2 linked regions of the Homo sapiens genome follow. The protein of the gene in region 1 interacts with the protein of each later gene in a biochemical or structural test. Each region holds a gene or a part of one and is shown in the gene's direction. Other genes may lie near its edges.

Evidence for each region. Proteins that work in one complex are often made in the same cells at the same time.
Region 2: the proteins of AKT2 (region 1) and CLIP3 form a complex in vitro, tested with the Homo sapiens proteins (one study listed by BioGRID).

The regions. Positions count from the first base shown.
Region 1 is NC_000019.10:40,229,672-40,233,346, reverse strand, and holds the end of AKT2 (RAC-beta serine/threonine-protein kinase), read left to right. Parts: 3' UTR 1-3,030; downstream 3,031-3,675. UniProt on the Homo sapiens protein: Serine/threonine kinase closely related to AKT1 and AKT3. All 3 enzymes, AKT1, AKT2 and AKT3, are collectively known as AKT kinase.
Region 2 is NC_000019.10:36,019,157-36,022,902, reverse strand, and holds part of CLIP3 (CAP-Gly domain-containing linker protein 3), read left to right. Parts: intron 1-3,518; exon of another isoform or gene 3,519-3,596; coding exon 3,597-3,732; intron 3,733-3,746. UniProt on the Homo sapiens protein: Functions as a cytoplasmic linker protein. Involved in TGN-endosome dynamics. May modulate the cellular compartmentalization of AKT kinase family and promote its cell membrane localization, thereby playing a role in glucose transport in adipocytes.

The DNA.
Region 1 (3,675 bases):
TGTCCAGGGGCAGGCAGGGGCCCTTGGGAGCTGCAGGGCTGGGGGTTAGGGCTGCTCCCTGGTGAATGGAGTCAGATCCTAGGATCTGTACCATGGGGAACCAGGAGTGGCCGGGCTGGGTGCCGCCTCCTGGTCCGGCCTCCTCCCCACCAAACTGTCCTCACCCTATGGATGAGGCAGGAGGAACATTTGGGGCCAAACCTGCCTGCCTCCCAGCCCCGTGCCTTACTAGGGCTTCCTTCCAGCTGGCCTTACCTCCCGCTGGACCCTGGGCCTGGCCTGGCCCCACTGGGGGCTATGGGCTGGGCTCACCCTCTCCTCTGCGGGGGTGGAGGGCCACCAGCCTTGGCTGTTACAATCTTACACCGGACAGTATTGGGCCCCATGGACTTGGTCAGGGAGGGGTGGGGGTGGGCATCTCTGGTACCTATTGGGGTGGGGGGCCTCTGAAAAGGGAGGCTCCTAGGCCCCCCTCACCCCTCCCTCTCCCCAGGGCCCCACGTTCTGCAGCCTTAAGGTTGAACATGAGTGCACGTCCATGTCAGTGCTGTGGGACTCCTGTGCGTGCCTCGGACTGCGTGTGTCGGCGGGACGCAGGCACACGTGGGTGTGTGTGCATGTGTGTTTGTGTGAGGGCAGCGTGTCCTCCAGTGTGCATGGTGTGTGGGCTTGGGCCCCATCCCTGGCCCGAGCATTTCATCCTGTGGGGGAGGGGTGCTGACCTAGTGGGAGGAGCCCCACTGTGATCCATGAGCTGCCCTGCCCACGCCTCCCCTCCCTGTAGCAACACCTCTGGGTGTTTGGAGTTTAGCTTTTGTGGGTTTGCTCTCCCTATCCCATCTCCTGTACTACACAGTTCATGGCAGGGTGGGGAGGGGTGGGGTTGGTTCGGGTGGGTGAGGGTCTTTTTCCTCTGTGTGCGATGTTGTTATCTGACAGTTCTCCGTCCCTACTGGCCTTTCTCCTCGTCTTCATATTTGTACGGTACAAGCAATAAAGACACTCATTTCAGACCAGGGCCCAGCCTGCACTCACGCCAGCCCAACCACTCTGGGCTTTGCCTTGGTGATGGAGTCAGACCCCTGGGCCCCAGCTCCTCCTGTACTAGCCGTTCCCTTCAGCAAGGAGGGCACTGAGCTCAGGGTGAGGGCAGCTGGGGTGTGTGCAGGAGCTCAGGCTGGAGAGGGTGGGTGGAGCTGGTGCTGTGGGGCTGAGGGGTATGGGAAGGCTCCCCGCATGTGGGGGTGGGGTGGACAGAGACCACTCCAGGCCCTCAGTGCTGCTTAGGCTAAGAGAGGTGGGGTGGAGGGACAGGGCTGGAAGATCTGGGTAGCCCAGAATGAGGAGGGTGCCTGTGCTGTCACTGAATGAGAGGGAGTGGTTCATTCCACCCGGCTGCCGAGCCTCAGAGGGGGGCATTCCTATCCTGCCCCACCTCCCTGTTTATGCTGCCACCTGGAAGCCTTGAGGCCCCCAAATTCCAGTACAGACCCAGTGGTGTGTTCATGGTGGCGTGGTTGCTGTCACCTGGGAGCTCCTGAGCGTTTGGTTAGAACCCTGTTCAGCTTGGGGTCAGCCCTCCCCTAGTCACTGCCCTTTAGCCTGGATGTGTCTGGGCCCCTGCACTTCCCGTGCTTGAGTCACGTGGCTGCATGGCCGGGCGCTGGCCGGATGGAACACCTCCCCCAGCAAGGGACCAGGGACCAGAGCCCTGGCCTGCCCTGCTGAGCCCTGCTGTGCAGAGGGCCTGGCACAGATGAATTTGAGATTTTGCCGCAAGGTGTTAGCACTTCACACCCATTGAGTCTTTGAGATTTTAAGTGAATGTAAGCAGAAAAAGTCAGATCCAATTTACAGAAATCAGAGTTAGCTACAGCTAGGACTCGTTTGGTTGGGGTTTTTTAGTTTGTCTTTCTAAAGTCATGTGGACCTTAATTTAATTACAAAAGTCTACCCTGGTGGTCATAAAATAGGCAGGCCTATGAAGAAAGGCCTTTTACTCTTCCATCTCGTCCCAGCCCCGAGTTGACCCACGTTGCTGCTCCTCACACCATGGTGATGCAGGTCTCGTAGTGTGGGCACAGGCCTGGCTACCTCATCTTTTTAGTGCCTCTCTCCTCTTCCACAGGATGGGGTCCCACAGCTGCAGCAGCTGGCCCCGTAGTTGAGCATGTGTGGTTATCCTGTAGAGCTTTTCCCAAGAAGGGTGTTTGAACTTAGAGTCTTAATAAAATCTTACCAAATAAATTTTGAGTAGAATAATCGTCTTTTGCAATGTACATTTTAAAAATTTCACACATTCTTTTTTGTATATAAAGAACAGTGACTGGGCACAGTGGCTCATGCCTGTAATCCCAGCAATTTGGGAGGCCGAGGCGGGCGGGTCTCTTGAGGCCAGGGGTTCGAGACCAGCCTGGGCATCATAGGGAGACCTTCATCTCTACAAAAAATACAAAAATTAGCTGGGCATGGTGGTGCATGCCTGCAATCCCAGCTAACTTGGAAGGCTGAGGTGAGGTGGGAAGATCACTTGAGCCCAGGAGTTTGAGGCTGCAGTGAGCTATGATTGCGGCACTGCACTGCAGCCTGGGACAATGAGACTGTGTCTCTAAAAATAAAAAAAAAAAAAACATGATACATGCTATTAAAAAAGACAGCAAAGCAGGAGTATAAGAAAGGAAATTCACCCGAGGTCGCAGGGCCTTGAGTACTCATTTTGGTGCTGATTACCTCTCTGCAAATGGACACGGCATCATAAATTGGTAGTTTCCTGCTCTTTTTGTGTAATCTTTTCCAGTTAATGTGAAGCCTCTGGGGGCTGCCCTCGTGCACTGATGGTTGTGTGGAGTCGGGGGCGGCAGTGCGATTCCCTTTTAGCTGCTGCATGGGGGGAACTCAGGCTTTCCAGCTGCTTCCTGGGGTTCCATGGGGTAGACCCCTCAACCGCTTCAGCTGCCCCGTTAACAGGAATTGACTTGGTTTCGTTTGGTGCTACCAGCAGTCCTGTAATAAACTAGCTATCCATCTGTACTGTGCTGGTGCTTTTGTTTGTCTACATCCCAGGATTTTAATGTCCAGTACCTTTCCAAAAAAGTGTAGCCATTCAGATACTTTAAATTTTGAAATAATTGCAGACTTGCAGAAAACTTTCAAAAATAGTGCTGTACTAAGATTATTCCAGGCCTGGGGCAGGAAATGTACAAGATGAGCCTGGGGCATCTTGCAGTGCCTGAAAGCACGCACTGATATGCTTAAGTCACAGGGACACAGGAGCCAACAGAAAGCTTCCAGTGGCCAAAGCTGAAAAGAATTTGAACAACAAAATAAATAGCATAATATTGGGTTTTCACCTAAAATGTGAAATAAGTCTATTGCTAAGTGGCAAAATGGGGAGAATATGCAAATCTACACAAAATCATAAGTAATTTCTGTAGACAGCCTTCAAGGAGGGCTATGGAACCCCCACTTCTTAGGCGTGGGCTGCAGTGACTCCTCCAAAGAGTGCAGTGTGGAGAGGGGGAAAAGTAACTTTTCAGTGAAGGTCCCTGGCAAACACTACATCATCCAGCCAATCGAGGCAAACACTGCTGATGAATCACCTTCACAGTGTCCCTTTAATGTGATAGAATGGCACTTTCCCTCTGATCCTCCTCTTGCAGACACACACCACCTCAC
Region 2 (3,746 bases), 4.2 Mb from region 1:
TTTGTATTTTTAGTAGAGAGAGGGTGTCACTGTGTTAGCCAGGATGGTCTTGATCTCCTGACCTCGTGATCCGCCCGCCTCAGCCTCCCAAAGTGCTGGGATTACAGGCGTGAGCCACCGCGCCTGGCCTTTTATTTTTATTTTTAGTAGCAACGGGTTTCACCATATTGGCCAGGCTGGTCTCAAACTCCTGCCCTCAAGCGATTCGCCCGCCTTGGCTCCCAAAGTGCTGGGATTACAGGCATAAGCCACTGCGCCCGGCCCCATCCAGAAAGCATTCTGCTGTGCACGATCTAATCATATCCATTGCACAATTCAGAAGGAAGGTTGGGTTGACTCTTCCCATTTTACAAGCCAGACTATAAGAGGCTCCAACAGGTGAAAACCTTTATCTGAAGACACGGAATACTAATCACTGCCCCTTAGAGAAGCAGCATAGCACAGCGTCATGAACTCAGGCTCAGGGACTTGCCCAGGTAAATCTCAGCTTTGCAACTTCCCACCTGTGGACCTGGAGCCAGTGATTCTGCCTCTTTGGGTGTCAATGTCTTCATCCGTAAATGGAGATAATAATAGTAACCACCTTAGGGGGCTGGTTGAGGTTTAAATTAATTAAAATGCGTAAGGCCATTAGAACAGAGTCCAGCGCATACTAAATGCTCTTTGTGTGTGCCAGGCACTGTTCTAGTCCCTCCACCAACACTCTTAAGATCAGCACTAATTGTCGGGGCGCGGTGCCTCACGCCTGTAATCCCAGCACTTTGGGAGGCAGAGGTGGGCGGATCACGAGGTCAGGAGATCGAGACCATCCTGGCTAACCCGGTGAAACCTCGTCTCTACAAAAAAAATACAAAAAATTAGCCAGGCATGGTGGCAGGTGCCTGTAGTCCCAGCTACTCAGGAGGCTGAGGCAGGAGAATGGCATGAACCCAGGAGGCGGAGCTTGCAGTGAGCCAAGATCATGCCACTGCACTCCAGCCTGGGCCAAAGTGTGAGACTCCGTCTCCAAAAAAAAATAAATAAATAAAAATAAAAAAAGATCAGCACTAATTAATTAGCCTATTATATGGACCAGGAACTGAGGCATGGAGAGGTGAATGAGCCTCCCATAATGATAATAACCACACTCACTAAAGTCTCACTGCAGCTAAGCAAGTTTACATGTGTTAAAAATGTTTCCGCCAAATGTGGTGGCTCATGCCTGTAATCCCAGCACTTTGGGAGGCTGAGGCAGAAGGATCGCTTGAGCCCAGGAATTCGAGACCAGCCTGGGCAACATAGTGAGACCTCATCTCTACTAAAAATGAAAAAATTAACCAGGCATGGTGGCACACACCTATAGTCCTAGCTACTTGGGAGGCTGAAGTGAGAGGATCGCTTGAGCCCAGGAGTTCAAGACCAGCCTGGGCAATCAACATGGTGAGACCTCATCTCTACTAATAATGAAAAAATTAATCAGGCATGGTGGCGCACACCTGTAGTCCTAGCTACTTGGGAGGCTGAAGTGAGAGGATCACTTGTGCCCAGGAGTTTGAGGCTGCACTGTGCCAGGGTCGTGCCACTGCACCCCTGGCATGGGCAACAAAGTGAGACCCTGTCTAAAAAAAAAAAAAGTTTCCGCCAGATGATCACTCCATGAGGTGGCTTACTATCTCTATTTTACAGATGAAACTGAGGCTCAATAAGTCCCCTGACCAAAGTTACAGCATGATAATAGCTAACAGGCTGAGCACAGTGGCTTCACACCTGTAATCCCAGCACTTTGGGAGGCCAAGATGGGGAGGATCGCTTGAGGCCAGGAGTTTGAAACTAACCTGGGCAACATAGGGATACTCCATTTCTATTTTTAACAAAAGTTTGTTGTTGTTGTTGTTGTTTTAATTAGCCAGGCTTTGGTGGCGTTCACCTGTAGTCCCAGCTACTCGGGAGACTGAGGAGGGAAGATTGCTTGAACCCAGGAGTTCAAGGTTACACTGAGCTATGATTGCACCACTGCACTCCAGCCTGGGCCACAGAGTGAGACCCTGTCTCTAAAATAGAAAAAAAATTTCAATAACGAATACTTGCTGATCCTTTACTTAATACCAAGCCCTGTTCTGAGGGCTTTAATTTCTCTATAACAGCCCTGTCCAACAGAGCTTTCTGTAATGGTGGAAATATTCTGTCTGTGCTGTCCAGTAAAGTAGCTACAAGCTACATGTGACAATTGAGCACTTGAAATATGGCTAGTGTGACTGGGGAAATGCATTTTTAATTTAGTTTAAATGTATTGATTTGTATTTTTATTTATTTATATTTTTTCTTGAGACAGAGTCTTGCTCTGTTGCTCAGGCTGGAGTGCAGTGGTGCTATCTGGGCTCACTGCAACCCTCCTGGGTTCAAGCAATTCTCCTGCCTCAGCCTCCCGAGTAGCTGGGATTACAGGCGTGCACCATCATGCCTGGTTAATTTTTGTATTTTTAGTAGAGATGGGGGTTTCACCATGTTGGCCAGGCTGGTCTTGAACTCCTGACCTCAGGTGATCCTCCCACCTCGGCCTCCCAGAGTGCTAGGATTATAGGTGTGAGCCACCGCGCCCGGACTAAATTTATTTATTTTTAAATTTAAAAATCATCTGAGTCTTCTTTCTAAGGTATGTATTTATTTATTTTTGAGACAGGGTCTTGCTTGTTGCCCAGGCTGGAGTGCAGTGGCACCATCATAGCTCACTGCACCCTTGAACTCCTGGGCTCAAGCGATCCTCCCACCTCAGCCTCCCAAGTAACTGGGACAACAGGCTTGAGCTACTGCACCTGGTTACCTTTTTTCTTTCTTTTATAGAGAATAGGGTCTTGCTGTCTTTGTTTTTTGGAACAGATTAAGATTAGAGGGTCTCGCCATTTTCACCCAGGCTGGTCTGAAACTCCTGGCCTCAAGTGATCCTCCAGCCTTGGCATCCCAAAGTGTTGGGATTATAGGCATGAGCCACCACACCCGGCCTTAGTTTAAATTTAAATTGTTGGCCAGGCATGGTGGCTCATGCCTGTGATCCCAGCACTTTGGGAGGCCGAGGCGGGTGGATCACCTGAGGTCAGGAATTCGAGACCAGCCTGGCCAACATGGCGAAGCCCCGTCTCTACTAAAAATACAAAAATTAGCCAGGCGTGGTGGCATGCACCTGTAGTCCCAGCTACTTGGGAGGCTGAGATGGGAGAATTGCTTGAACCCAGGAAGTGGAATTTGCAGTGAGCCGAGATCGTGCCACTGCACTCGAGCCTGGCAACAGAGTGAGACGCTGTCTCGAAAAAAAAAAAAATAAATAAAATAAATAAATAAATAAATTTACATTGTCCTATGTGGCTAGTCACTATTCACTATATGAGACAGGGCAACTCTTTAACAATCCTATAAGGTGAGTATAATTTCTGTTCCCATTTCACAGCAAAGGAAGTTGAGGCACACAGAGGTTAAGTCATGTAGCCAGCAAATGGTGATGTGTGACCTGGGGTTTGGGCCCAGGGCGGCCTCATGCAACCCACCTTGCTGCCCGTGTGTGGGCACTCCACGTTGGCCTCCCAGCATTCCTTCCTTAGCCATCGCCTCCCTTCTCTCCCCAGACGGGCACACTGCGGTTCTGTGGGACCACGGAGTTTGCCAGCGGCCAGTGGGTGGGCGTGGAGCTGGACGAACCTGAGGGCAAGAACGATGGCAGCGTTGGGGGCGTTCGGTACTTCATCTGCCCTCCCAAGCAGGGTTAGTCCGACCTC